Linked DNA regions of Homo sapiens. The protein of the gene in region 1 purifies or fractionates together with the protein of each later gene. This does not show direct contact. Each region holds a gene or a part of one and is shown in the gene's direction. Other genes may lie near its edges. The genes, in order: CRAMP1, NPAT, GON4L and PPP4R3B.

The links.
Region 2: the proteins of CRAMP1 (region 1) and NPAT purify together in Homo sapiens (affinity purification with mass spectrometry; 2 studies listed by BioGRID and IntAct, with this or other methods). This does not show direct contact.
Region 3: the proteins of CRAMP1 (region 1) and GON4L purify together in Homo sapiens (affinity purification with mass spectrometry; 2 studies listed by BioGRID and IntAct, with this or other methods). This does not show direct contact.
Region 4: the proteins of CRAMP1 (region 1) and PPP4R3B purify together in Homo sapiens (affinity purification with mass spectrometry; 2 studies listed by BioGRID and IntAct, with this or other methods). This does not show direct contact.

What each region holds. Positions count from the first base shown.
Region 1 is NC_000016.10:1,671,336-1,678,361, forward strand, and holds the end of CRAMP1 (protein cramped-like), read left to right. Parts: intron 1-2,545; coding exon 2,546-2,710; 3' UTR 2,711-6,573; downstream 6,574-7,026. Other genes in the region: JPT2 (jupiter microtubule associated homolog 2), read left to right, coding at 6,978-7,021.
Region 2 is NC_000011.10:108,156,696-108,163,645, reverse strand, and holds the end of NPAT (protein NPAT), read left to right. Parts: intron 1-1,465; coding exon 1,466-1,526; intron 1,527-1,604; coding exon of another isoform or gene 1,605-1,631; coding exon 1,632-2,766; intron 2,767-4,626; coding exon 4,627-4,704; 3' UTR 4,705-6,431; downstream 6,432-6,950. UniProt on the Homo sapiens protein: Required for progression through the G1 and S phases of the cell cycle and for S phase entry. Activates transcription of the histone H2A, histone H2B, histone H3 and histone H4 genes in conjunction with MIZF.
Region 3 is NC_000001.11:155,756,189-155,763,214, reverse strand, and holds part of GON4L (GON-4-like protein), read left to right. Parts: intron 1-840; coding exon 841-1,025; intron 1,026-2,573; coding exon 2,574-2,771; intron 2,772-5,180; coding exon 5,181-5,324; intron 5,325-5,891; coding exon 5,892-6,035; intron 6,036-6,137; coding exon 6,138-6,257; intron 6,258-7,026. UniProt on the Homo sapiens protein: Has transcriptional repressor activity, probably as part of a complex with YY1, SIN3A and HDAC1. Required for B cell lymphopoiesis.
Region 4 is NC_000002.12:55,558,621-55,565,646, reverse strand, and holds part of PPP4R3B (serine/threonine-protein phosphatase 4 regulatory subunit 3B), read left to right. Parts: intron 1-435; coding exon of another isoform or gene 436-453; exon of another isoform or gene 454-491; intron 492-605; coding exon 606-745; intron 746-1,149; coding exon 1,150-1,334; intron 1,335-6,678; coding exon 6,679-6,872; intron 6,873-7,026. UniProt on the Homo sapiens protein: Regulatory subunit of serine/threonine-protein phosphatase 4 (PP4). May regulate the activity of PPP4C at centrosomal microtubule organizing centers.

The sequences.
Region 1 (7,026 bases):
AGTCACTGGGGCAGGTTCTTGAGGGGAAGGCGAAACGTGGTTTGTGACTCTCCACTTTTGACGAGATGCAGCGTCCCTCTTTGTTGGCCAGGCCATCTGGTTGTAGCCCTCAAGGCGTCCACCACATGGTTTGTGTGGCATTCGTGGGCAGGTCAGGCTTGCAGGGTGAAGACAGGCCCGTTTCACTGTGACGTAAAGTGCAGAGTGGCAGGTGTGTGGGCAGTCGGGTGAGGGCTCTATGGACAGGGAGGGAACTCCAGGTCCAGGAGATCATCCGCATGGGCTTAGCCCATGTGAAAGTCCTGGAGCAGCATTCCCCGAATCTAGTCCCCACAATGTTGAGACATTGGCAGGTGTTCCTTGAGGATTTTGTGGGTAGATACTTGAGGGACACCCTGGATCCAAAAAAGCTCAAAACAGCTGTTTCTCACGGACACCTCCGCTACCCAGTATCCGAATGTGAATCGTGACTCTTGAGATGATGAACTCATGGGCAGGCTTTGGAGAATTCCAAGCCAAGCCATGATATGACTGGAAATTTTAGCCAAATATACACATAGACACAATTAATAGCGTAGACCTCCATCTCACAGTGTGTGGCGTTTCTCAAACCTGTTTGGCCCCAGAATCATTATTCAGGGCACACCTTGGACTCTGATGTTTCCCGAGAAGCCAGTCTCTGTCTCTTCCCCTGTTTGTGCGCATGTTCCTAAGTGCTGGGCTCTGTGGAGATGGGCGCTGCGTACGTGCCCTGAGGCAGCATGCTCACGCCATGCTGTTGAAAGGACGGGCCACAGCCCAGTGACAGGAGCCCCTTGGAGTCAGAAATCCAGAGTGTTAGCCTCACCCCAATCAGAATTTGCACCTTTAATAAAATCCTGGGCAACAGATGGCACTTGGGAGTGAGTAGCAGAGAAAGGGTGCAGTTAGTATTTGTGAAACGCTGCCCGTCGCGAGTAATGCAAACGTGTTCACCTTCAGAAAGAGCAGATCAGCGTTTAGCATGAGATTTTCCCGAGAGCCCTCCACTCAGAACGTGAGTATGTTTCTCAGCAGGTCCTCGTCATCTGGAAGGATGGGCTGAGGCATTTGTGGATGAAAGGGTCTGGTGGTAGGGCTAGCATGAAGGGGGCGGGGGTGGAGCTGGGTGGCCCTGGGATGAAACGGGTGGGAGCTGCTGATGGACATACAGGGGAAGGAGAATTACTCTTTGCTCTGCTTTTGAAAACAAATTTTAATTTGTCTGACATTTCCCATAATCAAAGCATAAAATTTCATTTACGCCATAGCTCTATTCAGAATTTTCCAGACTTCTTGCATTCACAGTGTCATGCAGTTCATTAAGGGATATTTCTGCAGGGTCTGCTGTGTGCAAACAATGGCCCCTGTCCTCATGAGGCTTCTACTCTAGAGCAGGACGCAGACAATAAGCGCTGAAAACGGCACATTCTACGTATTTGCTCATGGGACAAGATCCCGGTGCCGAGGCCCTCCCGTCCTCCGTCTCCTCAGCTCTGTGCTGCCTCACTCACTCTGTCATGGCCACCACCTTGGTCGTGCTTTTCAGTCAAAGCCTCTTCCTGTCTCAGGGAACATGCCTGTTGCTTCTTTAAAAAGGAACGTACTCCCCATGTGTCCTCATGTCTCTGACGGGAACGTGCTCCCCACATGTCCTCAGGACTGATGGGAACGTGCCCTCACCACATGTCCTTGGGATTCTGACGGGATCGTGCCCTCCACCTGTCCTCATTTCTCTGACGGGAACGTGCCCCCAGCTCTCCTCATGTCTCTGATGGGAACGTGCCCCCAGCTGTCCTCATGTCTATGACGGGAACGTGTCCCCCACCTGTCCTCATGTCTATGATGGGAACGTGTCCCCCACCTGTCCTCATGTCTGTGATGGGAACGTGCCCCCCACCTGTCCTCATGTCTCTTGACGGGAACGTGTCCCCCACCTGTCCTCATGTCTATGACAGGAACGTGTCCCCCACCTGTCCTCATGTCTGTGACGGGAACGTGTCCCCCACCTGTCCTCATGTCTATGATGGGAATGTGTCCCCCACCTGTCCTCATGTCTATGATGGAAACGTGTCCCCCACGTATCCTCGGGTTTTACCCCACCTCCCGCTCAGGTCCCAGTCCTTGGAGCACCCTCTCTGGCCTCCTTTTCCCGGCACTCTCTGTCCCCTCACTCTGCATCTGTTTCTGCAGGCTGCCCCCAGTGCCTGTGTCTGCTGCATACAGTCTGTCTACCTGTTGGGTGTCTTCCCCCATAGGTCTCATGGCGGGCGGGGGGACCAGCACCCTCACCCCAGCCATCAGATGTGCCAGGCACATCATAGGCTCTCTGCGAGCACTTATCTAAAGAGTGTGCGGGCAGACGACAGGTGATTGTGATTCTGCACAGAGCCCTGGGCTGCCATCCCTAGCTTAGCTTCCTGCAGCGGGAGTCGATAGGAGCTTCTCGTCCTGTTTCAGGACCCGCCCTCCACTGAAGGGCCAGCAGGTCGCGGTGACTTGTTCTTCCTGTCTCCTCTTCCTGCAGGTTGTGGATTCCCAGCTGGTGTGCATGATGAACGAAAACAGCATTGATTACATTTCTCGGTTCAATGACCTGGCCCAAGAGCTGTCCATCGCTGAGCCTGGCCGCCGAGAAGCTCTGTTTGATGGTGGTGGAGGCGGCCCCGCTGTCAGTGACCTGTCCCAGTGACCACACGTCCTGGTGGCGGATGAAGCCCTCTTCGAGCTAGAGAAAAATAGATAAGCCCAGCAGCCCCAGAAGATGGTCTGAACAGAGGCATCTCCGCACCCAAGACTGTGCAACGGGCAGGAACGTGGTCACAGAGCTGCTTCCCCACGAGCAGCAGGCAACGGCGTCCAAGGAGACTAGGATGAGTTCTTGGCAAGGGCCAGCGTTAGAAATCACTGTGGTACTAGAGCCGTTCTTCACCACGCCTGGGCCCATGTTAGGGTCTGCATAATGATCCCATTTCAGCCTGTGCTCTGCCTCGATTGTTGTGTTGGACATTCCGGTGGCATTTCCTTCTGAGACAAGGGAGTATGTGTGCCTTGGTGTAGTTGCTGTGCACTAGGAGCTGTGATCTCCCTCTCTGCAGGGAGGCCCCAGCCCCTGCTGCTTGCTTTCTGCCAAACCTGTGCTATGCATCAGCTGTGCCCTCTGTGGACTGTAACGGGCAGGACAGTTGGGTGTGGCCTGGGCTCATGCCTGGTGGTGTCACATCCCAAGGCAGCAAGAGCATGGATACCGATCACAGGGCTGCTGCGGAGTCGTGGGGCCCTGGGCTGGTGCCTCCCCTCCCTAGAGGTTTTGTTCGTACTCTTAACAGGGAGTGGGGGCAGGAAGAGTCCTGTACTATGCAGGTTGTGTGGACTTTACATGGGACCCTGCTAAGCTGGTTGAAAATGTTTTTCTTGTGTTTTAAGAATTAGGAGACATGGAAGAGGAAGAACAAAGTCCCCTCTGTAGTTGGTTTCCTTCCTGTGTCCCTTTGCAAGCTTCCAGGCGATCTAAGGTGTCATTTCTCCCTCCTGGGGTGACCCTTAGGCGCTAATATGATTACAGCGAAGACTTTCCTGATAAGTTCTCAAACTCGATGTGTGACTGTTTGGCACTTGAGACAAACCTGCCTTTGCAGGGAAAGTGTCTCTCACGGGCATTGGTGTGGGCGTGCCTGACATACGTGTTCAGTCCCTTGCATACCTTTGCCTTGAGACTTCTGTGTCTCCTTCCCATTTGGGACACCCAGGTGAGGGCCCAGACATCTGGATGTGGTCAGACCTCACCAAATATATGCCTTCGTGGTGGTCTCCCTCCTTGCGCCCTCTTGGGTGGCCAGCGTTCCTACTGCAGACGGCCCAACATCCAGTCTTTCCCCAGGACAGAGCTAACAAGGGCCCCTTTGCCTTCTCATCCTCAGGAGTTCCAGGCACATGAGTCACCGTCCATCCACATCCAGTGTGGCCTGGAGCTGCTACAGAGGTGTTGGGCAGGCCATGCCTGTGCCGCCATCTCTCCCTTCCTGCCTCATTTCATCCCCCGCAGCAGCCGGGATTGATTGTGCTTTCCTAACCCCCTTGGACCTACTCTCCCTCCTCCCCACCATTCCTCTTCCCCCACATGTGTGGCACGCTGCAGCCCTCAAGGCCAGCCCTGGCCCCTCCACTGCTTCTCTCCCCATCCACAATGGAGAAGGTGAAAAGAGGAGGGAAAGGCCTTTGGTGTGGACAAGCATGTGGACGCCCTCCGTCCTGCAGTCTTGCCAGCCCACCACAGCCACTGTAGACCACAGGCAGGCCGTGTACTGCACCACTGGGAGGACGTGGAGAGGACAGTGAACTTCCAGGCAAGAGCTTCCTTCTTTTGTCTCACGAGTTTTTCTTAGAGCTCTTGCCTGAGCTGGCTTCCCTCCTTCAGACATTGACATGAGATCTTAAGCAAACAGTCCCAAACCTCTTAGGGGTGAAAAAAGAAACATGCCACTTGATTAGGAGAGAGACAGCAGTGTTTGAACTACAGCATCTTTACACTAGCTTGTGTTTTGTGCTACGTATACCAGCTTCCAAAATTAGCATCTCATTGAGCCAGAGAAGACAAGGAGATCTCCCTCTGGGCATCTGGCTTTGCTGCGTCTCTAGAGGGTTAGGATACCAGGCCGAGTTCAGGCCACTGCTAGCTTTCTCATACTCCCACAGGCTAGACCAGAGATGCCAAGTCCCAACAGCACTGAGCTGTGTGCACTGTGCCAGGGACAGGAGGGTTTGTGAACTGCCTGTCAGGGTACCTGTTAGCCCCTGACAACTCAGTGGGGTGAAGTTTTGGAGGTCAGAGTCTGCTTTCGTAGGCTCTTTAGACAGCACCTACCACTTGGTTCTCCAGCGTAGACTCCTGGGAGCAGCCAACTGCAGCCATTGCCATCCAGTGGGGAGATGGGTTAGGGAGGAGGACGGGCTGACTCCTCTCCTGTAATAAAGCTGACAAGAGTTCTAGAGGATTCTGCTTCTCTAGTAACTAGACAGGTGATACGCATTTGCTTGCCACATTAAGGGAAAATGGTGTCATTTGTTGCAGAAAAACAATGGATACATTTTCTTCTGGCCTAAATGAATATTTATGTGCAAACATAGGCAACTGTTAAAGGCTGGAATTTTCAAAAGATCCAAACAGAGACTTCCTGCATCTTCTGCCTTTCCAACAGAAGCGGTGATCGTCTAAGTATGAGCCTGTGGCTTCCTTTGTGCATTTGAGCATGCTGTAATTAAGATGAGATCAGTTTCTTAGAAAAAGCTTTCCTGAATCCCTCTGACGTTGCCTGGGATCTTTCTGTTGATTCGTCTTTTCTGGAGATTGGGACAGAGCATCTGTGGTCCAGGGAAGTTAGTCCTCTGGCCTCAATTCTGTTGTGGATGTGCAGTGATAAGCGGGCATTGCGTGCCTCGGGGGATGCCTAGTTCGTGGCTTCCTGGCTGTTTTGTCCTTCTGTGTCTTGTAGCTGTAGGGTGCCAGCTCAGGGAGTGGGGTGTTGGCGGCGTTTCCGCGGTTGGCCTCCTTGCTTTGCCGCACCTCCAGGTTCTGGGCATGAGAGGCCGTGGCCTCATTTCTGGTGGATAACCTTTTTAGTTTAATAGCATCTTTAATTAGATCACAGCATTGAATTCAAAATTTCTTCTGCAAAGAAAGTTGTGGGGCATAAGACACCGGGAATGAGGGAGGAGGAAGACAGTTGTGTTTTCTCTTTAAACCTTGAGCTCTAGCCGATGCATTTGTCAGGAAATACAGCACTTTGTCTTAAGAAAACAAGGAAGGAGGCCGGGCGCAGTGGCTCACGCCTGTAATCCCAGCACTTTGGGAGGCCGAGGCGGGCGGATCACCTGAGGTGGGGAGTATGAGACCACCCTGACTAACATGGAGAGACCCTGTCTCTACTAAAAGTACAGAATTAGCCGGGCGTGGTGGCGCATGCCCATAATCCCAGCTACTGAGGAGACTTGAGGTAGGAGAATCACTTGAACCTCAGCGGCGGAGGTTGCAGTGAGTCGAGATCGCGCCAGTGCACTCCAGCCTGGGCAAGAAGAGCGAAACTGGGTCTCAAGTTAAAAAAAGAAAGCAAGGAAAGAGTAATTTACAACGAAGGAAAAAAACCCACAGCACACCCTTCGCGGCTGTCAGCGCTCTCCTGATGTCACAGTGGCTGCGTGTCCTTGGGGTGGGTGAGGTGTGGGGAGCCCAGCCCCTGGCCCTGCCTCCCGCGCCCCGCTCCCCTTCTCTCTCTTACTCGGTTAAGCCATAGCGAGGCCTCCGCTCGTTTCAGATATGAATTTGTTTTATAGATTATAAATATGCATATACAGTGTATGTATAAAGCAGAATGCCTGCCTTTCCTGGTTATTTTTTGTACCATATTGTAAATTATATTATTTATTCTTTACCAATTTTGGGAATAAAAGGTGTTTTGGTTATTTAATATAATAAGAGCTGTTAAACTTCTGTTTAAATTTCCAGTTCAACTTGTAAATGTTTTTATTGTGCATAAATACATACTAATGTTGATCTAAGGACTGTCGTTTGTGCCTGTTCTTCAGGGCCGCGCGCCCATGCCCGCAGTCCCTGGTCGGGCAGGTGCGGCCCAGGTGCGGCCCCGCGGTCGGCTCGCGGGCTCCCGCAGACCGGGCTTCCTCCCGAGGGCGCGGCCGTCCCAGGGCCCGCCCGGCCCGCCGCCCAATGCGAGCTCCCACCTCCGCGAGCGGCGTCGCCTTCCCCAATCGGCTGCGGGCGCGGCGCCGACCGTTCAAAGCCTAAGTCGTCGGGGGTGGGCGTGAGGGGCGGTGGCCGCGCTGAGATAGGCTGCGGAGGGATGATTGGCGTCTTGGCGCCCAATGGGCGCTGGCGGGCGGCCTTGAGTACCTGCGCTGGGCGGGCGGGAACGGCGCGCGGCGAGCTGAGGGTGGCGGCGGTCGACATGTTCCAGGTCCCGGATAGCGAGGGCGGCCGCGCCGGCTCCAGGTGCG
Region 2 (6,950 bases), on another chromosome or scaffold:
CACCTCTCTTCCTCAAAGACTTCTTCTGCCTAGTGTTTTTCCCCTTGGTTAATGTCACAATTTATTTTTTTCCTTTACTTTTGGAAATGTACATGCCCATTATTGTCTCTCAGACCCTCATCATCTCTTACCTGGAATATAGCCATCTACATAGAGTTTCTACTTCCAGTTTTCTGTCTTCTCAGTTCCATCTTCCACATTATTGCCAGATCTTCCAAAGACATAAACCTATTCATGCATCTTCCCTATTTAACACCCTTAAAGGGGCCGGGCATGGTGGCTCACTCCTGTAATCCCAGCACTTTGGGAAGCCGAGGAGGGTAGATCACCTGAGGTCAAGAGTTTTGAGACTGGCCTGGCTGACGTAGTGAAACCCCTTCTCTACTAAAAATACAAAAATTAGCCAGGCGTGGCAGCGTGCACCTGTAATCCCAGCTACTCGGGAGGCTGAGGCACTAGAATTGCTTGAACCCAGGAGGTGGAGGTTGCAGTGAGCCAAGATCATGCCATTGCACTCCAGCCTGGGCAATAGAGCGAGACTCCGTCTCAAAAATAAATAAATAAATAAATAAATAAATAAATAAATCTCTTAAAGGATTGCCTCTGAAACCTTTTGCATAATATGTAAGTTTCTTCATAATCTCATCTTTGCTCTTCTTTCTAGTTTTGATATCTTGCTGCTCTCCCACATAAATGCTGAAGCTCGTGGAAATTAAAATATGGCTATTAGAACTCCAGAGCATGTGCTCTGAGTGACATAGGCTTGTAAACATGATAGGTACCGGGACAGAATTTTAAAATAGATATAATCTGTTGTTTTCTTTAAGTGACTACCTGGATGTAAGTAGTACATTATGTGCTATATTGAGCATTGTAATTTGTAGATCCAAAGACTGGATTTATAATATTTGCCTGAACCGGGCGCGGTGGTTCACGCCTATAATCCAGCCTTTTGGGAGGCCCAGGTGGGCAGATCACTTGAGGCCAGGAGTTTGAAACTAGCCTGGCCAACATGGCGAAACCCCATCTCTACTAAAAATACAAAAAATTAGCTGAGCATGGTTGGGGGCGCCTGTAATCCCAGCTACTCGGGAGGCTGAGGCAGGAGAATTGCTTGAACCTAGGAGGCAGAGGTTGCAGTGAGCCGAGATCATGCCACTGCGCTCCAGCCTGGGTGATAGAGCATGACTCTGTCTCAGAAAAACAGACAAACATAATATTTGCCTGAAGTTGATGCATGTCATTTATTCCATATCTGGATTTCCTCTGTAGCAGTGGGGAAATAGCCATCTTGTACTTATTTCAAAGCTGCTTTTTAAAAGCTGCTTTGTCAACGTGTTCTATTTGTGTGTACATTAGCTACCATTTAAAATTTTTTCTCATGATATGTGATAATTGTCATCTGTTCTATCCTCTTTCAGAGGAGTATATTCTTTTTCTCAGGAATGTTCATTTATAATTTCAGGAAAACAAGTAAATAATTTGGTGGATTCGTCAGGTCATTCAGTTGGATGTCATGCACAAAAGTGAGTATAAAGTAGTTTCTATCATAGATTGTTTGAATGCTCAGATTTAAAACATAAAGGATTTCTTTATGCTGCTAGAAATAGTTTTGTTTTGTTTTGTTTTAGAACTGAAGTTTCTGACAAAAGTATTGCCACAGATCTTGGGAAAAAATCAGAAGAAACCACAGTTCCCTTCCCAGAAGAGAGTATAGTTCCAGCTGCTAAACCATGCCACAGACGTGTACTCTGTTTCGACAGCACTACTGCTCCTGTGGCAAATACGCAGGGGCCAAACCATAAGATGGTGTCCCAAAACAAAGAAAGGAATGCAGTCTCTTTTCCTAATCTTGACTCACCCAATGTGTCCTCCACCTTAAAACCCCCTTCTAATAATGCTATCAAAAGAGAGAAAGAGAAGCCTCCTCTGCCTAAGATTTTATCTAAATCGGAAAGTGCCATTAGCCGGCATACCACCATAAGAGAAACTCAATCAGAAAAGAAAGTTTCACCAACAGAAATTGTGCTTGAATCTTTCCATAAAGCAACAGCTAATAAGGAGAATGAATTATGCAGCGATGTAGAAAGACAGAAAAATCCAGAAAATTCAAAACTATCTATTGGGCAGCAAAATGGGGGTTTGCGAAGTGAGAAATCTATAGCTTCACTGCAAGAAATGACCAAAAAACAAGGCACATCTTCAAACAATAAAAATGTACTTTCAGTAGGTACAGCTGTGAAGGATCTAAAACAAGAACAAACTAAATCCGCCAGTTCTTTGATTACCACAGAAATGTTACAGGATATACAGAGGCACAGCTCAGTAAGTAGGCTTGCTGATAGTAGTGATTTACCTGTGCCCCGGACACCTGGCTCAGGGGCAGGGGAAAAACATAAAGAAGAACCTATAGATATTATCAAGGCCCCCTCTAGTAGGCGTTTCAGTGAAGACAGTAGTACATCAAAAGTAATGGTCCCTCCTGTCACCCCAGACTTGCCTGCCTGCAGCCCTGCCAGTGAAACAGGAAGTGAAAACAGTGTAAATATGGCTGCCCACACATTAATGATTCTCTCCAGGGCAGCCATTTCTAGGACTACTTCAGCAACTCCTCTGAAAGATAACACACAACAGTTTAGAGCATCTTCAAGGAGCACCACAAAAAAGCGGAAAATTGAGGAATTAGATGAACGTGAGCGAAACTCTCGTCCTTCTAGTAAAAATCTTACAAATTCATCAATACCAATGAAAAAGAAGAAAATTAAGGCAAGTTTGAAAGTTTTAATTTCAAAACCACACCTTTTTTTTCCGCTTTAGTGATTAGCGAATTCAGCAGTTCTTGCCACAACAACTTGACTGAACGTTATGGCTAAGACAGCTTTTAGTTTTCATTGACAAAATACATAACCATGATCACAGGACCAATAAGCAGTAGATGCAGGATTCAAACTCAGACTTGTAGGGCAACAAAGCAGTCCAGCAGTGTTAGTGTAGTACGCACAAGGTGTCTAGGTGAAACAGCATTTTCAGGAAAAACTGCTGAGGCATTTGTTTATAAACATCTTTCCGGGGGAAAAGAAAAAGTTTTTCTTTCTTTCTTGGTAGAACTCAAGTTTTTTCATGAGCGTGACATAGTCATGAAAGATTGGGAAACAATATTAAACACTATTGTGTAGAACTACCAAGTAATAAATGACTTTGTTCTTAGATGTTCAGTTTTTTTTTTCCCCCACGTCTTGTAATCTCTTCCATAGGCCCTTAAAAATGTTAGCATATTAGAGCAGTGGAAAAATCAAATTTACGTATGTTTTTCCATTTTTTTGAGAGAGGGTTTCACTCTCGTTGCCCAGGCTGGAGTGCAATGGTACGATCTTGGCTCACTGCAGCCTCCGCCTTCCAGGCTGAAGTGATTCTCCTACCTCAGCTTCCCAAGTAGCTGGGACTACAGGCATGCGCCACTGCATCTGGCTAATATTTTTTCCTTTTTTTTTTTTTTTTGAGACAGAGTCTTGCGCTGTTACCCACTAGAGTACGGTGGCGTGATCTTGCCTCACTGCAACTTCCGCCTCCTGAGTTCAAGCAATTCCCTGCCTCAGCCCCCTGAGTAGCTGGGATTACAGGTGTCTGCCACCACACCCAGCTAATTTTTGTATGTTTAGTAGAGATGGGGTTTCACCGTGTTGGCCAGGCTAGTCTTGAACTCCTGACCTTGTGATCCACCCACCTCGGACTCCCAGAATGCTGGGATTACAGGCATGAGCCACCACGCCTGGTCATTTTTTCTGGTTTTTTTTTTTTATAGAGACAGTCTTTTGCCATGTTGCCCAGGCTGGTCTTGAAGTCCTGAGCTCAAGTGATCTGCGCACCTTGGCCTCCCAAAGTGCTGGGATTACAAGCATGAGCCACTGCGCCTGGCCTTATGTTTTTTATTTAAGCATGGTTGTCTCTAGGAAGGCAGTGCAGGGATAGCATTGATAAATGAAATCCATTTATTTTCGATTTGGTTAGCTGTTTAGTAAGTGGATTGAATAGAAAGAAAGTGCTTAAAATATCATAGAGGAAGTATGGTATCAGGGAAATAATTTAGGCTTTGTTGCCCTACAAGTCTGGGTTTGAATCCTGCATCTACTGCTTATTGGTCCTGTGATCATGGTTAAGTCTGTAGCCTTTCTGAGTCTCAGCCTCATCACTTGACATGATATTACCAGGTATCTTAGGTTGTGAAGTCTAAATGTAGTATACATAAAGTATCTAGTGTATATTAAGTTTTGGAACTGATAAGTACCTGTAACCCTAAACATCTGTTAGTAAAGCTTTCTAAGCAGTAATAACCACCTAACATAGAAAGCATGTTCTATCTTGTCTCATTCAACATTCAGACACTCTGGATTTGTATCATGTCTTTTGCCATAAACTAACATTCAGGTGCCATTGAAGTATATTTAAGTAACTTTGGGTTTATAAAACTTGTCTCTACTTCTCTATAGAAGTAAAATTCTAATAGACTAAAAAAGTTTGACAATTTTAGTAGTATGTGAAAGAACCCAATATACTGTTTTAGGTGACTTACTAAGAAAGCATTTTGGCCTTGTTTTGAGTTTATTTTTTCTTTCTCTTTTTCAACAGAAAAAGAAGCTTCCCAGTTCATTTCCAGCAGGAATGGATGTAGACAAATTTTTGTTATCATTGCATTATGATGAGTAAACATTCTGGACACATAAGAACAGTAGGTGTTAAAAACTCATATCCCTTAAACTGAGTGTAGGGAATGGGATATTGACAGAATCTGAAAGCATGACCTGCACTTTCATTGTACTGAAACTTCACTTTATATCTAAATCATGCTGTTTCTGAAACAGCTTCCTAGTTTGTAAATAGACTTACTTGGTATATTTTTATTTTGGGAAAAACGTTTGCAGAAATGTAAGTAAAGCCAATCTGCAAAACTGTATAGCTTTGACAATTCCATATTGTAAATACTGTGTAAATCTTGTTGAAATAGAGGTTAAATCAACCTAATGTTCTTACACTGTGTTTTTTGACTTCTTATGATCCCTAATTCTGAGACTTACTCATCTGGAATAGTTTCTCACTTGTTTTGGAGGAAAATGATGCTTATTCTTATAAATTACCTTCAGTAACTATTCAATAAGACATTTAAATACACAATCACTAAGTACTACAAAATAATAACCACCTCAACTGATAGCAAAATATCTAATTAGAAATCAACAGTTTGATGAGTTTTTTTCCTAGAGTGAATACTACCCCTTTCTTATAATTGCTGTAAGTATTATATTTCTGGAATTTCACACTTTACCTACTCTGATCACTCTGTTCTCTTTGTTTTAAAGAGAGAATTTTGTAAACCATTTATTGAATGTTCTGATCTTTCATTTATAACTTAAGATTTTTTACAGAACTTTAAGTGGTTAGACTATTGAGCCATAAAATTTTGGTTTGTAGTAGAGATTTCTCGGTATGTACTTTTCCCCTAAATGCTGGGGATTTAAAGAATTGCACTAATTCATAGAACTCTTTACATTGTAGTGACCAATGCACATATAATTTAAATCTTGTGTTCTATGTGAGAGTTTATGTGGAGGATTATCTTCTGGTGTTGTGTCCATCATAAGATGTAAAAAGAGAAATCATAGTTTTATATTTTAGTTTCTCCTACAATGGGTATGTTAAATAACTATATCTATACTTAGATATAGTGCATTGTCTGTGTCCCTTAAAGTGTTACAAAGAGTTTCTCTCAAAAGGTCCTTAAGGAGAGTGAGAGATGAGAGAGGTGCCTTCTCTGTATTAGACTCACACACATCAGTCCAGTTGAAGAATTGGTTTAAACTTTTAAATGAGAACAGAAATTATAATTAGTACCTGACCAATTGTGCCTAGATATTAAAGTATGTTCTCTTTAGTACTTTCCGTTCAATTAAATATCAGTATATTAGGGATTTTTTTCTACAGGTGTATATTTTGTTGAAGAGTCACTTTCCTCAACCATTTTTTTGTACTGGGCCTTTAAAAAAATAAATCCATCCAACTTTAACACAACATTTCTCAGTGTAGAAATCATGTCTTCTTAATTGCTGAACCTTACTGCAAAAACTTGTGATGTAAGAAATTTGTATGGTGTGGCAGTGGTCTATTCCTAAGGAACTAAATATCATATAGTTAATGTTTATTTAACTCAGCTTGAGACTGTACTACAGTTAGGTTTGAATAAATATTTTCATTAACTTCAAAAGTTTGAATTACTTTACATTGGCAGTCTTGTTTAGAAACTGATTAAATTCCTTTGCAAGTCAGTTCTTTTTGGGAGTTTGTACAATGCTGAAAATCACAGTTTTCTTCTTATTCAATTCATAGTTGTATGTACTAAGCACTGAAAATTCATATACAAATAAAATAAGTTTACTTTCTTCAAGATTCATAGTTAACTAACCAGGAACTGCTAAGTAAAGTTGAAAGATAACTTGTACTTGGAGCTTTTATGTTCAAGAGCAAAATCATATCCCCATTTTACCTTAAAAGTCCACAGGTCCTGAACTTAATTATACTATTGTACCTGGTAACCTATTTGAATACTTAAATGCCCAGTGACTGCATTTCAGGGTTGATGTATACTACAACAATCCATGGCTGTTTTTATAATTACATATGAGGATCCAGTCTGTTGTTTGGATATTACTTAGAGGTTAATGCAGTCAGTGTATGCCAAATCTGAGAAGTGTTGTTAAGTAAAATCTTGTTACAGATTTAGCCCTGGATATATTAGAACTATAGTGTGTTGAAATTGCGCATAAGAAAAGCATCCATCAGCATTCATGCAAAGGCTACATGTCATGACTATTAGGAGTAATTTCAAAAGCATATTACTATATATTCTGCATTCATCCTTTCTCTGGTCATCATCTTTTAGGCTCAGGCCCAGCTTTCTG
Region 3 (7,026 bases), on another chromosome or scaffold:
ATTTCCAGAGGAAACCCTCTGGATCTCTTCTGCAACACCCCTCCCCCAAAACATGTTTAATGTGGTATCTTTGTGGAGAACAGATACTCAGAAATTTTTAATTCAATTCTCATCCGTTGCTAGATTTATATTAGCTTCGTTCACTTTCTTTCTTTTTTTTATTTTTTTATTTTTTTTTTGAGACGGAGTCTTGCTCTGTCGCCCAGGCTGGAGTGCAGTGGTGCGATCTTGGCTCACTGCAACCTCTGCCTCCCAGGTTCAAGCGATTCTCCTGCCTCACCCTCCTGAGTAGCTGGGATTACAGGCATCTGCCCCCACACCCAGCTAATTTTTGTATTTTTAGTAGAGATGGGGTTTTACCATGTTGGTCAGGCTGGTATCGAACTCCTAACCTTATGATCCACCCGCCTCGGCCTCCCAGAGTGCTGGGATTACAGGCGTGAGCCACTGTGCCTGGCAGTTCACTTTGTTAAACTGATTGTTACCTTATCTGTCATGTGTGGGGCTAAGACCCATGTTTATTTCAGAAAACACTGCTTGTTCCTCATCAAGACATAGTCTCTCAAAAGCACTACAGAAGCCACACTTGCTCTTTAGACTTCCTTTCTCAATATGAAGTAGCTGATTATCTTGTTGTCATCCCAATTAAGGCAGTTACACTGCAGACTCTGCGTAGAACTGACTTGACGGACTTAGTTCTCATACCATTTTCCCAAAAACCTTTTCCTTGAATTGCTCCATAATATTGAATAGGATTTGGCTGGGGTGGTGCATGTGGTGGAATGGGAAGAACACAGGTTGCAGGGACAGGGAAACAATCCTTTTCATGTGTGCTACAAGGAGAGAGCATCAAAGCTGCTGGAAAAGGCCGGAACAATCATCGAGCTCGCAACAAGCGGGGAAGTCGGGCTCGGGCCAGCAAGGACACCTCCAAGCTGCTGTTGCTGTATGATGAGGACATTCTCGAGCGAGATCCACTCAGGGAGCAGAAGGACTTGGCCTTTGCCCAAGCTTATCTGACCAGGGTAGGCAAATGCTGCTTCCTGTTATTGCCAGTCTCTATGAATGTGGCTGCTTCTTCAAGGGAGATGTTTTTCAACATAAAGTCTGTTTTTCAGGCTATGCAACAGGCTTCATATTCCTCTATCTTGGCTTTTCTGGCAAAAGATCTCTGTGACAGAACCACAAGGAGACATAGAATTCAATCATAAGTATGTTTATTGTTAGTACCCTGCCATCATCCTTCTGTTGACCAGAGATTGGCAGAAAGATGATACCACCATCATCAGTGGGAGGTTGTGACTTTACTGGGTGCGCTGATAAGGACCTTTATAGAACCTTTGGCTTGAGAAGAAAGATAGTGGGTACACTGGCCAGCAAGTGGATTTCAGGAAAATACATTGCTCTTAAGACATGAACCAGCTGGGCGTGGTGGCTGACACCTATAATCCCAGCACTTTGGGAGGCCGAGGTGGGTGGATCACCTGAGGTCAGGAGTTAGAGACCAGCCTGACCAACATGGTGAAACCCTGTCTCTACTAAAATACAAAAATTAGCCGGGTGTGGTGGTGGGCGCCTGTAATCCTAGCTACGGGGGAGGCTGAGGCACAAGAATCACTTGAACCTGGGAGACGGAGTTTGCAGTGAGCCGAGATCGCACCACTGCACTCCAGCCTTGGTGACAGGGCGACACTCTGTCTCAAAAAAAAAAAAAAAATGAACCAGGCTGGGCGCTGTGGCCCTTGCATATAATGCCAGCACTTTGGGAGGCTGGGGTAGGAGGATCCTTGAGTCCAGGAGTTCAAGACAAGACAAGCCTGGGCAACACAGGAGACCTCCATCTCTACAAAAATAAAAAAAAAATAGTGAGCTAAGCATGGTGGTGCATGCCTGTGGTCCTAGGTACTTTGGGAGTCTGAGGTGGGAGGATCACTTGGGCCCAGGTGGTTGAGACTGCAGTGAGCCATGATTGCATCAGTGCACTCCATCCTGGGCAACAGAATGAGACCCTGTCTCAAAAAAAAAAAAAAAAAAAAAAACCACACATAAGCTAACCACTTCTTGGTAGTGTCCTGGAGAACTGTGTCCTTCTCTTGGTAACCACCTGATTCCTTTATCCCCCTGGAAAGCAGAATACTGGCAATGATAGTCATAGCTTTTTCTTATCTCCTAATGTTTTACTGACATTCCTAACTTATGTATTATTTACTCTCAAATTACGCCCATGCTGAAATACATGTACAAACACATGTTACCTATTTCATTATGGGGCTGTAATCAGTAAGGAAAGGTTAGGGCTGTGACCTAGAGAAAAGCATTGCTTGGTTTTGTGGGTAGAACTGTGGAACGTGGAAGATGATTTTTCACTTGCTCACTCCCAGAAAAAGATCTTTACCTTGCCTATTGCTCTGTGTCTTCCATTAACAGTCAGATGTTAAGATCTGTTGGAGGCACAGCCTCTGATGGATAATTCTTGGAGCTCTCTAACCATAACCCTGCCTTCTCCCTTGTACCCTTATTGCTTGTTGTGGCCCAAATAAAGGGTGTTGATGATTGAAAGTCTTCCCGTGTAGGTGCGAGAAGCCCTACAACATATCCCTGGCAAGTATGAAGACTTCCTTCAAGTCATCTATGAATTTGAGTCAAGTACCCAGAGACGGACGGCTGTAGATCTCTACAAAAGCCTGCAAATTCTGCTCCAAGACTGGCCTCAGCTGTTGAAAGACTTTGCTGCTTTCCTGTTACCTGAGCAAGCTCTGGCCTGTGGATTAGTAAGTGAATGGGGAAAAAAAGTACACTGGGACTCCTGGGTCAGAGTGAGACTGGGATTGAATGGGGTTGAATAAGACTCTTTCAGTCTCCCAGCTCCTTCCAGACACACAGCCATCCCCTAGCCCAGAGTGATAAAAGCCTCTGTCTTTTCAGGGTATTATCTTTCCAATCCCATTCTCCCATTTTCTTTACATGATAAATGAGAGGGTTTTACCTATAGTTGCCAAAGGACACCTTAGGTGAGTCATATGCTCTCTGCTTCTCACTGGTATCAAGCCAGACATTCATTTAACAAATATTTGTTAGGTGCCTCCTAACTGTCAGGAATTCCTAGCAATTCCTGACCTCAATTGCTAGGAATATAGTAATTACAAAAGACTAAAATTCCTGCCCTCGTGGAGCTTACGTTATCATGAGGAAATTCAGATGATACTCCAGAAAACATATATATATATATATCATATATATATATATATAATATATAAAATATAAATTATAAAAATAAATATAAACAGCAAAATATATAGTATACAATGTTTTATAGTGATCATGTTTTACAGAAAAATAAAGCAGGAAAGGAAACTAGAGGGGTGGTTTTATACACAGCGGTCTGGGAAGGCCACTGTGGTATGGTAACGTGAAATGTTGCAGAATAGGAGGCTAAACATGAGGGATATCCCAGTAGTCCTGGACTTATCGTCATAAAAATAGGAACAAAGGGAGGAACGGGATTATTCTAAGAGTTTTATTGGGGTTAAATGACAGTGGGGTAGTTCTGCATATAATGTGTGATGCCCATTTTCTCTTCTGGTATTATGAGGTTCCAATCAGTGTATACGTGAACAAAAAAAAAAATTTTTTTTTTTTTGAGATGGAGTTTCACTCTTGTTGCCCAGGCTGGAGTGCAGTGGCGTGATCTCGGCTCACTGCAACCTCCGCCTCCTGGGTTCAAGCGATTTTCCTGCCTCAGCCTCCCGAGTAGCCGGGATTACAGGCATGCGCCACCACCACGCCTGGCTAATTTTGTATTTTTAGTAAAGACGGGGTTTCTCCATGTTGGTCAGGCTGGTCTCGAACTCCAGACCTCAGGTGATCTGCCCACCTCGACCTCCCAAATTGCTGGGATTACAGGTGTGAGCCACCACACTTGGCCAAAAAATTTTTTTAAAGAGATAATGTCAGCCAGGTATGGTGGCTCACACCTGTTATCCCAGCACTTTGGGAGGCCAGCCTGGACAACATAGCAAGACCCCATCTTTACATAAAATAAAAAAATTAACTAACTGGGTGTGGTGGTGCACACCTTTGGTCCCAGCTATTTGGGTGGCTGAGGTGGGAGGACCACTTGAGCCTGAGAGGTTGAGGCTTCACTCAGCCATGATTGCTCCACTACACTCCAGTTTGGGTGACAAGAGCAAGACCTTGTCTCAAAAACAAAAAAGAGAGAGACAATGGCCAGACACAGTGGCTGGCATCTGTAATCCCAGCACTTTGGGAGGCTAAGGTGGGAGGATCCCTTGTAGCCAGGAGTTTTGTTGTTGTTGTTTTATTGTTGTTGTTTTTTGAGGCAAAGTCTGACTCTGTCACCCAGGCTGGAGTGCAGTGGTGTGATCTCTGCTTACTGCAACCTCTGCCTCCCAGGTTCAAGTGATTCTCCTGCCTCAGCCTTCCGGGTAGCAGGGATTACAGGCATGCATGACCGCACCTATCTAATTTATGTATTTTTAGTAGAGATGGGGTTTCACCATGTTGGTCAGGCTGGTCTCGAACTCTTGACCTCAGGTGATTTGCCTACCTCGGCTTCCCGAAGTGCTGGGATTACAGGCATCAGCCACCACAGCTGGCCTGTAGACAGGAGTTTGAGATGAGCCTGGACAACACAGGCCCCTGGGATCCTCCTGCCTCAGCCTCCCAAGTAGCTCAAGCTACAGGTGTACACCACGGCCCCTGCCTAATTTTTAAATTTTTTTGTAGAGACATAGTCTCAGTATGTTGCTGTTCTTGAACTCCTGGCCTTAAGCGATCCTCCTGCCTTGGCCTCCCAACATGGGATTACAGCTATGAGCCACCTTGTGCAGCCTGAAAGTTCTTTGTAATATAAACTCTAAAGTATCATATGAATTTTGGTGGCTGATTTCACAATCCTTAAAACAGCAAACAACTTGAAATATATACATCTCTTGAAGCTGTTGCTCACATCTTAATTGCTTTGGGTGGCTACCCACCAGTGGCCCAAGGTGGATGGAGGTTAGGGTTTTAAATTAGATCTCAATAGTTGTAAACTAGAATTTTAAACCAGGGTTCTGTCATCTCTTGTGTCCTAGTCCACTAGTTCTTATCCTTAGAACCCTCAAGTCCTGCTCTAGCTGTATCATGACTCCTCTTTTGCCCACTTTCCACTCTGGTAGTTTGAGGAGCAGCAGGCTTTTGAGAAGAGCCGCAAGTTCCTTCGGCAGCTGGAGATTTGCTTTGCAGAGAACCCCTCACACCACCAGAAGATTATCAAGGTCCTCCAAGGCTGTGCAGACTGCCTTCCCCAGGAGATCACCGAGGTATTCTTTCCTGTCCTGCTTTCTTCCTGTTGTCTTCCGGGCCTTAGGCCTTTCCCTTGTCTCTTTCCCCAACCTACTCCATACCTTTTTGCCTCTGGAGGCTCATGGGCTTCCTGGAGGAGATGAAAAAGGCAAGGACTTTTCAGGCTCACCCAAAGCATAAAGCACTGGGATAGGGAGGGATTGCTACCTGAAACCGGAGCCTGTCTGATCTTCACAGGCTCAGGAATGCCATGGATGTGCTGGAAGGGATGTTCAGCGAAGGAGGTTCTGGGACCTGGGAGGGGCCTTACCTCCTTGCTCTGCTTGGAATAGTGCCCTAGCTGGAGATCAGTAGGGTGGAGTGGAGAGTGGAATCATTAGGAATCAAATCCAGTATTAGTACCCTTCCCCTATAGGCAGCTAAGGAGGAAGAGAAAGTTTTAGTATTCTTTGTTACCAGGCAGAGTCTCTGTGTGTTTCCCAGTTGACTGGGAAAGCAGAACATGGAAGTATGTGGGATTGATTGGGAAGGGCAGCCTAGAGAGGCTCTGGAGACTTCCTCTTTCCCTCTGTGACTCTCCTCAGCTCAAGACACAGATGTGGCAGCTCCTCAAGGGCCACGACCACCTGCAGGATGAGTTTTCTATCTTCTTTGACCACTTGCGCCCAGCAGCTAGCCGGATGGGTGACTTTGAAGAGATCAATTGGACTGAGGAAAAGGAGTATGAGGTATAGGACCTAAGGCTGCTGTAGCCTTATGAAGGGGGAAGGCCACACGTGGGAGGGATATTGGCCTGGTGTCTGTGCTCAGCAGCACCAACTCCTTCTCAGTTTGATGGCTTTGAAGAAGTGGCCCTGCCTGATGTGGAAGAAGAGGAGGAGCCTCCCAAGATACCCACAGCCTCAAAGAACAAGAGGAAAAAAGAGATCGGGGTCCAAAATCATGATAAGGTATTTTCTTTGTTTATTTGTTTGTTTTTGAGACAGAATCTCGCTCTGTCACCCAAACTAGAGTGCAGTGGCGTAATCTTGGCTCACTGCAACCTCCACCTCCCAGATTCAAGCGATTCTCCCACCTCAGCCTCTCAAGTAGCTGGAATTACAGACAGGCGCCAGCCACCACGCCCAGCAAATTTTTGTATTTTTAGTAGAGATGGATTTTCACTATGTTGGCCAGGCTGGTCTCGAACTCCTTACCTCAAGTGATCCACCCGCCTCGGCCTCCCAAAGTGCTGGGATTACAAGTGTGAGCCACTACGCCTGGCCTAAAATCATGATAAGGTATGCCAAGTTATTGAAAATTATCTATGTTTCATGAATCAAGCCTTGCGTTTTCTCACTGAACATTTCTGTGGCTTACTATGGCCCAAGGTTTCTAGTTCAAAGGCTCTAGGATCTGAGACGATCACGGAGAACAAACCAAAGGTCAGGCTGATACAGACATGCAGAGCCTTTGGGAAAACTGCAGTTGTTGCAGGGGCCCCAGGATTCCCTAGTTAGAAGGATTTGTTTCTTCCCCTTTTCTGTCTAGCTCAGAGTTATTACCCTTAATTCAACTTTTTTCATTTTTGCTCATGTGAGAAAATAGAGCCAATTGAGGATGAGCTTGTTATTAAAAAAATAAAATAGAACCAAGATTCCCCATATTAATAATAATGATAGCAGCTAATACTTAGTTGTATTACAAAGTGTCAGGCATTCTGGGAAGTATTTTAATGGA
Region 4 (7,026 bases), on another chromosome or scaffold:
AAAAATATGTTTTTCTTTTATTAATACATAATATTATACAGATGTATTTGGTACATGTATTTATTTTTTACATGCATAGAATGTGTAATGATCAAGTCCGGGTATTTGGGGTATCCATCACCGTGAGTATTTTGAAAATGTAATTTTAACATCTGCCCTCTAACCAGCCGTGTGCTCTGGATCAAACCATCCAGCCTCTCTTAGAGCCTCAATTTTGGTTTTTCTCTAAAATGGGAATAATAAAACCTATCTCATAGAATTGTTGTGAAGATCAAATGAAATTTTATGTAAAAGTGCTTTTTAAATTGTAAACTGCTATATATATATATATATATACAAAAAATAGAAGATGTAAAATAAATCTATTTACTTTTCGAATGCTCTTTATAGTCCTATAAAAGGACTCCAGTAAATTGCTTCTCCTTTTTTTTCAAGTTTTCTGTGCAGTCCTGACTCATGTGTAAAGAAACCAGGACATTACATTTTGGAAGGTGATTTTGAAAAACCTTTTTTGATCAGCTTTAGAACTACAAAACAAAATTTTAAAGTTTTTCTTCTAACAAGCATTGTATTATATTTTAAATGTAAATTTTGTGCTTATACAGGAAGATATCAAGTCTCTTACTGCCCATATAGTTGAAAACTTTTATAAAGCACTTGAATCGATTGAATATGTTCAGACATTCAAAGGATTGAAGACTAAATATGAGCAAGAAAAAGACAGACAAAATCAGAAACTGAACAGGTATTGTTTAAGTATACTGCTTTTATAGCCTACAAAACTGTGTCCAAAATTGTTTGTAGTTCAGATTTTCCATGTGAAATTTACTGAGGAATTTTCTTTCCATCACTGGATAGCATAGAGTTGAATAGGAGGGTAAGGCGTCCCCCCTACCCCATATCATTTATATGTTGAATTACTACTCCATGTTGTAACTTACGAAGAATATTTAGTTTAATTTACAACATCCTAAAATATTTTGGAGTGTTCTCTGGCTACATCTTCTATCATTACAGAGATTATTTTGATATAAATTATAGTCAGTTAAAATTACTTCAGTTCATCTTGGTTATACATATTTTTCCTTCAGTTCAATCTGATGATGAACTTTAAATCATTACTCAATATTTGTGATATATTTCTTACAGTGTACCATCTATATTGCGTAGTAACAGATTTCGCAGAGATGCAAAAGCCTTGGAAGAGGATGAAGAAATGTGGTTTAATGAAGATGAAGAAGAGGAAGGAAAAGCAGTTGTGGCACCAGTGGAAAAACCTAAGCCAGAAGATGATTTTCCAGATAATTATGAAAAGTTTATGGAGACTAAAAAAGGTATTAAAATTCGGAATTTTTGCACAGTGTACCCTCTTATTTAGTGCAGAAATTATTTTGTTGCTTTGTGAAGGTTTGTTTATAGTTTACAAAGCAAGAAAGACAAAAATTTTATACCAAACTGTGTTCTTTTAAAATTATGTACTTTTTCCAAATCTGTCTGGGAATTCTTTTCATGTTTAAAATGTTTCTCTTCAAACTTGCTATTTTGTAATGCTGTTAATTTGCTAGTTAGAAATTGAATTATCTACTTATACTTTTCTTTCTGTGAATAGTCTTGGCTTTATTTCTATACTGAAATTCTCAGTAATAACAGAGACCATATAGCTTCATAGAAACCTTCTAGAGTACTTTGCCTGTGTCTTTTACAGCTGATAAACTGAGCTCAAACAAGTAACTTTGCTCTTTGAAATTTTAAAATTACAAAAGTTACATAAAGATATACTAACAAGAGAAGTGAAAAAGTAAAACTTCCCCTGGCTTTCAGATGTGCTTAACTTGTTTTATAAAATGAAGATCTTGCTAGTAATATATCTTTCAAAAGAACTAACCATTTTACTTCTGTGGCCTGAGGAATTACCATTTTTTGGAATACTGCCCTGAGTATATCATTTAAATATTTAATTAAAATTTATACCTTGCTGGGCATGGCGGCTCACGTCTGTAATCCCAGCACTTTGGGAGACTGAGGCAGGTGGATCATTTGAGCCCAGGAGTTCCAAACCACCCTGGGTAACATGGTAAAACCCTGTCTCTACAAAAAAACACAAAAATTAAATGGGCACAGTGGCACTTACCTGGAGTCCCAGCTACTAGGAAGGCTGAGGCTGGAGGATCACTTGAGCCCAGGAGGTCGAAGCTGCAGTGAGCCATGAGCTGCCGCTGCACTCCAGCTTAATAACAGAGAAAGACCTTATCTCAAAAACAAAAGAAAAAATTTATGTCTTAGAAGATAAAAGCCTTTCTTGGATTTATTATGTAAGTTTGTGATTTTGAATGTGACATTTTCTAAAGACAATTCTCAGAAAATTAATTTCATTTATTACATTTTCTTTGAAACTATTGTTCGTACTCATTTTCAACTCATTAGTTTGATAAGTTTTATTTGCCTCAGCGTGGCGGAGCAAAAAGCTTATTAAAATATCCTAAGAAATCGGTACCTTTGCTAGACAAATTCTTCTGCCTTTACTCATTACAGGTACTGCCCTGACTATTGTCAAAAGAGGCAGTACAGCCATATTTGAAGTTCTGTATCCAGTGTTGAGTGAGATGCTGTTAAGAATCATATATAAAAATAATAACCAGATGTTAAAAGGGATTGGACACCTATGTCATAACACAAACAGAAAAAGGAACCTGGAATATTTAGGACTTACGGACTTGATCATTGTCTTTAGGCATTTGGAATATTGACTTGTGAGAGAAATTACTAGGTTTTTACCATGAGTAAAGAAGTGTAGAGTCAGTGAGTGGAAGCTACAGGGAGACAATAAAAGGAAGAGTCAGACAGCTAATGAGATTTTAGATGTATGTGCTAGATACCACAATGTAGAGTTCTAGCATAGAATGGCTAATTTTGTTATGATCCGTAAGGTCCTTTCTAATACTGAGATTTCTAAGATTCTAGCTAATAAAGACTTACCACTTGTATTAGTTCGTTTTATACTGTTAAAAAGAACTACCTAAGACTGGGTAGTTTATGAAGAAAAGAGGTTTGATTAACTCACAGTTCTGTAGGCTTAACAGGAAACATGGCTGAAAGGCTTCGAGAACCTTACAGTCATGGTCGAAGGCGAAAGGAAAGCAAGCATATCTTAACCATGGTGGAGCGGGAGACAGAGAGTGTGAAGGAGGAGGTGCCATGCACTTTTGTTTGTTTGTTTGCTTTTTGAGATGGAGTCTCCTTCTCATTGCCCAGGCTGGAGTGCAGTGGCGTGATCTCGGCTCACTGCAACCTCTGCCTCCTGGGCTCAAGCAATTCTCCTGCCTCAGCCTCTCAAGTAGTTGGGATTACAGGCATGTACCACCACACCCAGCTAATTTTTATATTTTTAATAGAGATGGGGTTTCACCATGTTGGCCAGGCTGGTCTTGAACTCCTGGTCTCAGATGATTCACCCACTTTGGCCTCCCAAAGTGCTGGGATTACAGGCATGAGCCACCAAGCCCGGCCGAGGTGCCACACACTTTGAAACAACCAGATCTCGTGAGAACTCACTATCACAAAAATAGCAAGGGGGTTTTCTGCCTCCATGATTCAGTCATCTCCTCCAACACCTGGGGATTACAATTCACAATGAGATTTGGGTGGGGACAAGAGCCAAACCATATCATTCCACCCCGGTCCCTCCCTAATTTCATGTCCTTTTTACATTTCAAAACCAATCATGCCTTCCCAACAGTCCCCCATAACTCATTCCAGCATTAACTCAAAAGTCCAAGTCCAAAGTCTCATATGAGACAAAGTAAATCCCTTCTGCCTGTGATCCTATAAAATAAAAAACAAGTTAGTTACCTCCAAGATACAACGGGGGTACAGACATTGGGTAAATGCTCCCATTCCAAATGGAAGAAATTGGCCAAAACAAAGGGGCTACAGGCCCTGGGCAAGTGCAAAGCCCAGCAGGGCAGTCTTTAAATCTTAAAGCTCCAAAATAATCTCCTTTGACTCCATGTTTCACATCCAGGGCATGCTGATACAACAGGTAGGCTCCCAGGGCCATGGCTGGCTTCGCCCCTATGGCTTTGCCAGGTACAGCCCCCATGGCTGCTTTCATGGGCTAGAGTTGAGTGCCTGTGGCTTTTCCAGGTGCATGGTGCAAGCTGTTGGTAGATCTACTGTTCTGGGGTCTGGAGGATGGTGGCCCTCTTCTCATGGCTCCACTAGGCAGTATCCCAGTGGGGACTCTATGTGGGGGCTCCAACCTCACATTTCCCTTCCGCACTGCCCTAGTAGAGGTTCTTCATAAGAGCTCTGCCCCTGCAGCAGATTTCTGCCTAGATATCCAGGCATTTCTATATGTCTTCTGAAATCTAGGTGGTTTGAGAATCAGAGGTTACCAAACCTCAGTTCTTGCCTCTACCCCACAGGCCCCGTGTCACATGGAAGCCACCAAGAGTTGGGGCTTGCACGCTCTAAAGCCATGGCCCAAGCTGTACCTTGGCTCCTTTTCGCCATGGCTGGAGCTGCAGCACCTGGGATGCAGGGTGTCCCAAGACTGCACAGAGCAGCAGGGCCCTGGGCCCAGCTCACAAAACCATTTTTCCCTCCTAGGCCTCTGGGCCTGTGAATTAACATTTGGCTCCTTGTTACTTATTCAGATTTCTGCAGCCAGCTTGAATTTCTCCCCAGAAAATGGGGTTTTCTTTTCTACTGCATGGTCAGGCTGCAAGTTTTCCAAACTTTATGCTCTGCTCCCTTTTAAATATAAATTCTAATTTCAGACCATCTCTTTCTTCATGCATATGAGCATACGCTTTTAGAAACCGCCAGAAGGCCTCTTTTTTTTTTTTTTTTTTTTTTTTTTTTTTTTTCTGAGATGGAGTCTCTCTCTGTTGCCCAGGCTGGAATGCAGTGGCATGATCTCAGCTCACTGCAACCTCTGCCTCCCAGGTTCAACTGATTGTCCTGCCTCAGCCTCCCAAGTAGCTGGGACTATAGGTGTGTGCCACCACGCCCAGCTAATTTTTGTATTTTTAGTAGAGACAGGGTTTCACCCTGTTGGCCAGGCTGGTCTCCAACTCCTGACTTCGTGATCCGCTTGTCTCAGCCTCCCAAAGTGCTGGTGTTACAGGCATGAGCCACTGTGCCCAGCCCAGGCCACCACTTGAATGCTTTGCTGCTTAGAAATTTCTTCCACCAGATATCCTAAATCATCTCTCTCAAGTTCAAGTTCCACAGATCTCTAGGGCAGGGGCAAAATGCCGCCAGTCTCTTTGCTAAAGCATACCAAGTATGACCTTTACTCCAGTTCCGAATAAGTTCCTCACCTCCATCTGAGACCTCCTCAGCCTGGACTTCATTGTCCATATCACTGTTAGCATTTTGGTCAAAACCAGTCAACAAGTCTTTAGGAAGTTCCAGACTTTCCCATATCTTCCTGTCTTTTTCTAAGCCCTCCAAATTGTTCCAACCTCTGTCTATTACCCAGTTCCAAAGTCGCTTCCACATTTTCAGGTATCTTTTTTTTTGAGATGGAGTCTTATTCTGTCATCCATGCTGGTGGGCAGTGGCACAATCTCAGCTCACTGCATCCTCTGCCTCCAGGGTTCAAGCAATTCTCCTGCCTCAGCCACCAGAGCAGCTGGGATTATAGGTGTGCACCACCACCCCCAGCTAATTTTTGTATTTTTAATAGAGAATAGGTTTCATCATGTTGGCCAGGCTGATCTTGAACTCCTGACCTCAAGTGATCCACCCTCCTCAGCCACCCAAAGTGCTGGGATTACAGGCGTGAGCCACTGCGCCCTGCCATTTTCAGGTATCTTTATAGCAGTACCACATTCCTGTTACCAATTTTCTGTATAGTTCGTTTTCACACTGCTCTAAAGAACTACCTGAGACTGTAATTTATGAAGAAAAGAGGTATAATTGACTTAAAATTCCACATAGCTGGGGAGGCCTCAGGAAACTTGTGGCGGAAGGTGAATGGGAAACAAGGCATGTGTTACATGGCAGCAGGAGAGAGAGAGCAAGGGGGGAAGTGCCACCCTTTGGAACAACCAGATCTCGTGAGAACTCACTATCACAAGAACAGCAAGGGCGAAATCCACCCCCATGATCCAGTCACCTCTCACCAGGTCCCTCCCCTGACATGTGGGGATTACAATTTGATTTGCGATTTGGGTGGGGACACAGAGCCAGACCATATCATCACTGTACACATCATGTTCTTTTTCAAAAGTTCTTAGGAAACAAAGGCAATTAATTTTGGTGTTATTTTTTTTTGTTTTTTTGGTTTTTTTTGAGACGGAGTTTCGCTCTTGTTGCCCAGGCTGGAGTGCAGTGGTGCGATCTCGGCTCACCACAACCTCTGCCTCCCAGGTTCAAGTGATTCTCCTGCCTCAGCCTCCCAAGTAGCTAAGATTATAGACATGCGCCACCACACCCGGCTAATTTTGTATTTTTAGCAGAGACGGGGTTTCTCCATGTTGGTCAGGCTGGTCTTGAACTCCGGCCTTGGGTGATCTGCCTGCCTCAGCCTCCCAAAGTGTTGGGATTACAGGCGTGAGCCACCATGCCCGGGCAGCAATGTTTTATAAGTTTTTTAATTACTGCTGTTTTTAGATGTTTTGACTTAGCAGTATTTATTGATATACGTTCAAAATTTTACTTTTGCTTTAGCAAAAGAAAGTGAAGACAAGGAAAACCTTCCCAAAAGGACATCTCCTGGTGGCTTCAAATTTACTTTCTCCCACTCTGCCAGTGCTGCTAATGGAACAAACAGTAAATCTGTAGTGGCTCAGATACCACCAGCAACTTCTAATGGATCCTCTTCCAAAACCACAAACTTGCCTACGTCAGTAACAGCCACCAAGGTAGGTGAAACAGCATTACACACAAACTTTGCTTTTCCCGTCTGTGAGATTTTTTCATGTTTACTGAAAAAAATTTGGATAATCAAAACAATTTCAATGAATTGTTTAGAATTTTTCTGTTACCAAAATGTTGATTGTAGAATTTTATTTTATT